Linked DNA regions of Homo sapiens. The protein of the gene in region 2 interacts with the protein of the main gene of each other region in a pairwise test. Each region holds a gene or a part of one and is shown on either strand. Other genes may lie near its edges.

What was found. The genes of interacting proteins can lie anywhere in the genome.
Region 1: the proteins of IWS1 (region 2) and ERICH2 interact in a two-hybrid assay, tested with the Homo sapiens proteins (one large-scale study listed by BioGRID).

Annotation. Positions count from the first base shown.
Region 1 is NC_000002.12:170,796,928-170,799,747, reverse strand, and holds the end of ERICH2 (glutamate-rich protein 2), read right to left. Parts: intron 1,708-2,820; coding exon 1,636-1,707; intron 979-1,635; coding exon 854-978; 3' UTR 771-853; downstream 1-770.
Region 2 is NC_000002.12:127,484,774-127,488,814, forward strand, and holds part of IWS1 (protein IWS1 homolog), read right to left. Parts: intron 1,892-4,041; coding exon 1,780-1,891; intron 1,261-1,779; coding exon of another isoform or gene 1,132-1,260; exon of another isoform or gene 1,101-1,131; intron 1-1,100.

The DNA.
Region 1 (2,820 bases), about 43 Mb from region 2:
AGAAGTATAAGTCTTGTAAATGTTTTATGAAAGAATATAAATATTTCCACTAACTTTCACTTCATTTGTTCATTAATTTGGTATATGTGTTCTATTATTTGCCAGGTACTTGTCCAGTTGCTGGGATATTATGAGGAAAATGATAAAGTTCTGCTTCATGGGTGTTACATTCTCTGGCAGGTAGGGAGAAGATGAAATGAACAATTAAACAAGCATTTCAGACACTGATACATGCTGTAAAGAACATACAATGAATGGGCTGGGCACAGTGGCTCACGCCTGTAATCCCAGAACTTTGGGAGGCCAAGATGGGGGGATCACTTGAGGCCAGGAGTTTGAGACCAGCCTGGTTGATGTGGCAAGATCCCATTATCTAGACAAACAAACAAATGATGAATGATATAAAAGTGCCTGAAATGGTGGTAATTTATAGGGAACTAAACATATGAATTCTGGGGCAATAATGTCCATGCACAAATCCAGGCTCTACAAACAAATAGGTGTATGATACTGGACAAATTATTCACCCTGTCTGTGCCTCAGTTTTCTCATCTGTAGAATGGCATAATAATAGTACTTAATGGGGTTGTTGAATTATACAATGTGTGTAGAGCAGTTTGAACAGTACCTGGCACACAGTCCTATGTAAGTGTTTTCAACTATTTTCCTCTCTGAGTAACTCATATATTGAGCTAAGGCCTAAATATTAGGAAGAGTCTTAAGCCAAGAATATAGATAACTTAAAAGAAACTGTACCAAATAAGGAAGAATTAGACTAAAATGTCACTTGTCTTTATATTTGCATGGTATACATTAATGAAAATACATGAAGCTTCAAGTATTGCAGCAACACTCATGATCCATCTTCACCTTCGTCAGAGCTCTCGTCACTCAGCTCCTCATCGCTTTCTCCTTTACTCTCACCACTGCTGTCTTCATCACTGTTTTCACCGTCTTGCTCATGATTCTGAGTTTTCTCTGCCACAGAAAGGAAGAGGATTGCTTAAGGTGTTTCTTAATATTTCACTCTGAAAAATAATTCTCCTTGCCCCTCCCTCTACCAAGAAATACATATATTTGTAACATAAGAACTGAGTTGGACTTGGCTAACTGCACTAGGGTCAAATGGTAGTACAAAGAAGAAATGTATTTTTACTGGCATACAGGTGTTTTTGATAATTTAAAACATAAGTCTATAAAAATAATTTTACTATTGTCAATGAAATTCTATTTAACGATTTCATAGAATTCTTTCTATCATAGAATTTTATTGACAATAGTAAAATTGTCCATTGAAAGGAATTGAGACAAGGTAATTGAGAGGGTGTGGCTTCCCTTGGAATTGTGGGTAATTCCTTTAACACGCAGCCGTGTTAGCATATTCTGCTTGTCAATACCTGATGCCTGGTGCCCAGGGAGCCTGCTCTGCTCGGGCAGTTCTATCCCACAGAGAGAAGGGGGTCATTGTGACCATCCACAGAGGACAAGCTGTTTCACTAAACCATTTAAGACAGCCATTTAGCCTTTTCTTAACCACTTCCTAAAGATGTATCGACAATCTCCCGGGATAATGGGTTTTTAAAGTGACTGCTTATAGTTCTATGAGAAACAAGGAATTTCAATTTTTAAAATTACCCATCAGCAACATTTCTTCAATAAGTGTGAAAAACTCCTTGGCCTCAGGATTTTCTGGTTCATAGATTAGGACTGAAAATGAAAATGGACAACAGAATGTGTGTTATTAACGTTCAGTGTTGCAGCAAACAGGCTCCTTAGAATGAAATTGAACTGTCAGTCAGAGCAGGTGAAAGGCACAATGCAATAAACACTAACAATTATACCACAGGTATATCTGAGTACAAATAGAGAAAATTCTGCACTTCTATTTTGCACTTTGGAAGATAAATGATCCTCACTATATTTTCTTTCTTTCTTTTTTTTTTTTTTTTTTTCCCTGAGACAGGGTGTCGCTCTGTTACCCAGACTGGAGTGCAGTGGCATGATCTTGGCTCACTGCAGCCTCTGCCTCCCGGGTTCAAGTGATTCTCGTGCCTCAGTTTCCTGAGTAGCTACAGGTGTGTGCCACCACGCCTGGCTAAGTTTTGTATTTTTGGTAGAGACAGGGTTTCACCATGTTGCCCAGGCTAGTCTCAAACTCCTGACCTCAGGTGATCCACCCACCTCGGCCTCCCAAAGTGCTGGGATTACAGGCATGAGACACTGCACCCAGCCCTCATTATATTTTCTACCTCCTATCCATAGAAAGCAATCTCTATCACCTCAATATAGCTTCCCTCATAGGACAGTAGCCAGAGTGTTTCATGAACATAATCATTTCCCAAAGAAGGTACAAATTCTGCAAAATATGGAGACTTTGCTAATGAGAAGACTGTGTGCCTAGAGGTCTGTTAATCCTTCATCTCATGTCATCCACCCATCTACATGACATCCTTTACTAAAGGTCTCATCGGAACACAGAGGAAGTTTTTGTTTGTTTGTTTTTAATGCAACCTCTTCCATGCTAGAGATGCCATTTTGTTACATCTTTCCAATAGGGGAACTGATGTTACTTCTTTCTCTTCATCTTGACAACTTTTACTGTAGTCTACACGTTGGTCATTGCCTGCTTAACAACATTCTCCACCTTCATTGGACCCATTGTTTTCAGTACTATTTATTCCTTTCTGCTGATCCTTTATGTCACTGTGTCACCTTTCTTTTGGACCACAACAATAGACTTTTTTAGGCTTGTTAGTATGTTAGCAAAATCCTAGAGGCCAGAAAGATTTATACCCTTAGTTTCAGAGTTGTCTAGACTAT
Region 2 (4,041 bases):
GATCACGAGGTCAGGAGATCAAGACCATCATGGCTAACAGGATGAAACCCCGTCTCTACTAAAAATACAAAAAATTAGCCGAGCATGGTGGCAGGAGCCTGTAGTCCCAGCTAACTGGGAGGCTGAGGCAGGAGAATGGTGTGAACCCAGGAGGCGGAACTTGCAGTGAGTGGAGATCGCACCACTGCACTCCAACCTGGGCGACAGAGCAAGACTCCGTCTCAAAAAGAAAAAGAAAAAGAAAAAGAAAAAGGACAGAAGGGCAAAAAAGAAACAGGTACAGGGGACATGGAGAGGTGGTCAGGGACACGGATATGGGCACAAGAAAGAGGAGGGAGAGAGAGAGGAGGAAGTTCTTGGCACAGAACTAGTCCTTCTCTACCCTCGATTTATTCTCAAGAAATAAGAAAGTACGTTTTGTTTTGATAGTCACTTAATAGCAACATGAACTGGCAGGTAGGAGAGTGGAGTCAGTGGAAACAGCTGCCAAAGCAGGGGTCATGGAGAAGAACCATAGGCAGGCAACACACACACACTGTGTGTGCTCCGCAACAAAGGTGCCATTAGTCTCAAAGCATAGTGGATCAGTGAGTTGGGCTTATGAATGTTCCCAAGTCTTTTCCACTTCTGACCACATTTTGAGTATGTGTTAATCAAATTCATCTCCTAAATATTTAGTATAAGGCTTTATGTAATGAGTTCTCAAATGCATGTTGCTGAGCCACTGACAGCAGGAAACAAGCTACCTCCCACCAGGAAACCACTAACTAGTTTATATGCCTGTAACACATATCACTGTAATTCTGGGTCCTAACAAAAACCTTTTTCATAAAAACGGGTACCAGTCAGGAAGACCCAAATGCATATTAGGGAAGTAATTATCTATTACTCTCTAGGATACTGATAAAGGAAGGGACTTCCATGTCAATTTCTAAATATTCAAGAGGCCTTGAATATCCCAAGGTGCCTGTTAGGGTCATTATTTTGAAACTAAAAGCAGACCTGGCCTCTTCTGATTAAGAAAGCACACACACACACACTTTTCACTCTGACTGTTGACAATTCAAGCCCATGCACAGTACATGCTTCCTTGGGAATACCTCTCGTGTATATACTCTGGTAGGGCCAGGCCTATAGGGGCATCCTGTTGCCTTCAATGCTGAACTTGACAGCACGATGCACTTTGCTGAGTCGTTTCTGTTCTGCAAATCGCCTCTTATGCTTTTCCAATCGGCTTAGGCCCTTTTTAAGAATACCAGGCTAGAAGTAGTAGTTTGATTGGAGAATAAAAAGAGATTACTGAGAAACACTGAAGATCCACTGAGCAGTATTTACAATGATAACAGAATAAGTGTCTACCCTAATCATTTGCAATGGAATTGCTTAAACCGTTGAAGAGAAAGGGAGAGGTAGGTCTGCTGAAGCACGTAAGCTCTGTTTCTCATGGTTATTAAAAAAAAAAATTCACTGTATCAGAATACTCCAGGTTTCAATTTCAAGCCTTGCTTGAAGTAAAGGGATTAATAAGAAGAAACTTCCCTACCTGATAATGTTGAATTAAGACTGAAGAAAAATTCATCAGCAATAAACTTTAATCCTGGGTAATACTTTTCCTTTCTCTATTGCTCAATTTGTGGTTTGGCTAGATAAGCGACCAGAAAACAGTCCTCTCTGAATCAGACAAACTTCAAGAGCTACAAGGGTTATTAACACATGAAGTAAAGAGTCAAACAGTAATCTGCAGGTGAGATCCACCTTGCCGATCCTCCGCTTGCTTACCCTGGATGACTCCATTTCCACATTCCATTTGGGCCTGACAACATAGTCCTTGTTTGAAGGCATTGGGACCCTTGCACGGGCACAGAATCCAGGATCTCCAGGTCTAAGAGCCCTGAAAAAGGGAAGAGGAAGAGCATGCTTCTTATGTGGCCAGCCACAGTGGGGCACATAGGCCATTTCACACTCCTGTTCCTACATCCACCCATTAAGCTGCAATGTTCGAAACTCCTCTACTCCCCACCAAAGGTCACCCAATCCACCCTCCTGCCGCCTCCCAGCTAGCCTGTCATCACACACACTACAGTATGCATTCCTCACTTCTCTTCCAAAGCCAACTTGCTCTGCATTTGCATGAATCCTTTTCTCCTCTCCTCAGCTTCAGATATACTCATGCCCCTCTGCCTTCCAAGGCTAGTCCCGCCCGCATGACTTGGAATCCCCTTTTCTCTTGTATAGTGGAGTCACTCATGAGTTCACTTGTGAGATGAGGAATTGTGAAGAATTGAGTCGTCAAATGACCCCCAAAACTCCCAGTATGCCTATAAAGTAGTTTTTCAATATACAACTCATACATCAATTTTTAATGTTTATTTTTGTAAAAATCTTTTGAAGATAATTACAGATTCAAATGAAGTTGTAAAAAATGATAGAGAGAGAGATCCAATGTCTCTCCCAATAGCAACAACTTGCGAATCTACAGTATAGTATCACAACCAGGATACTGATGTTGATACAGTACACTAATCTTATTTACACTTCCCCAGTTTTACTTGCACTCATTTATGTGTATGTATTTAGTTCTATGCAAATCCGTGGGTAACCATGCTAGACTAAAATAAGATTACTAACCTTCCAAAGTAAAGCCTATCTATGGATGCCTGGGCATTCAAACCATTCAGCATTTAGGTAACTAGTAAAGAGTGGATCTATGTGTGTCTGCTGGGGATGGGGAGAGAAGGGTAAAAAATTCTCAATTGTTTCTATTCTCTTGTACAGTTTACCCCATTTTTAACCCTAAACTTGAATCTCGCTCTGTTGCCCGGGCTAGAGTGCAGTGGCACAATCTCAGCTCACCGCGAGCTCCACCTCCTGGGTTTGTGCCATTCTCCTGCCCCAGCCTACAAAGTAGCTGGGACTACAGGCGCCCGCCACCACGTCCAGCTAATTTTTTGTATTTTTAGTAGAGATGGGGTTTCTCCATGTTAGCCAGGATGGTCTCAACCTCCTGACCTCGTGATCTGCCCACCTCAGCCTCCCAAAGTGCTGGGATTACAGGCGTGAGCCACCGCGCCCGGCCAACCTTAAACTTTTATAACCTTCATATATATATGAACAGACTAATTGGCTTGCCAAGAAAATTCCCTGTAACTCTTACTTTCCTTCTGAAGCCACGGTCTCATCAACTTCCTTCCTAAACAAACTTTTCCTCTAGCTCATCCCCTATTCTCTTCTTGCAATCGGGATGCTGCCTGACTACCAACACACCTGCACAAAGCCCTCTGCAGCACCTGCCACTGGCCCATGCTTTTGTCATTGCCACCTCCAGCTCAGCCTCATTCCCCTCCAGGCTCTGCTCCAACGCACAGGACCACAGGTGCTCATTCCCCTTCGCTGGCTGCTCTGCCTGGCTATGCCCCCTTTCAAAATTGTTTAGTTCGTTTCTTACTCTATACTCTCTTGATTGAACAATCTTTTCTATGGAGAGAACCATCAAATCTAGGTCTCTAGCCCAAACATCTCTTTACAAGTTCTAGACCCATAATATTTATAGGGCTATCTCATTAGGCATGTCACATTTAATATGCTCAAAAGAGAACTTGCCTGGTCCCTCAAATCTACTTCTCCCTCCATTTTGGTGAAAGGTAATAAACACTGTCTCAGCACTCAGGTTAAAATTTTGGCTGAGGTCTTCAACTCTAGCCATCTTCTCTCCCACTAAGTCACCAACATATGACAGCTTTGCCTCTGCAATGTCTTCTCACCCCTCTGTTTCCCAACTACCACCTCTGTTTAGCTGTATCACTGCCTCAGTCCCACTGCCCTCCAATCCATCCTACATGATGCCATTGGCATCAGCACCCTAAATCAAATCAAACCAGATGGCTTCACATCCAGCCTCAAAAACTTCCTGTGGAATCACAAGACGTGAAAATTCCTCATCTTGATTCAAAGCCCTTCACCGGTCTATTATTTCCAACCTTATCTTCTACCACCTCAGGCCCCATACTACTGTCCAACCCCTTCAGTCTACTTGCCATTCCA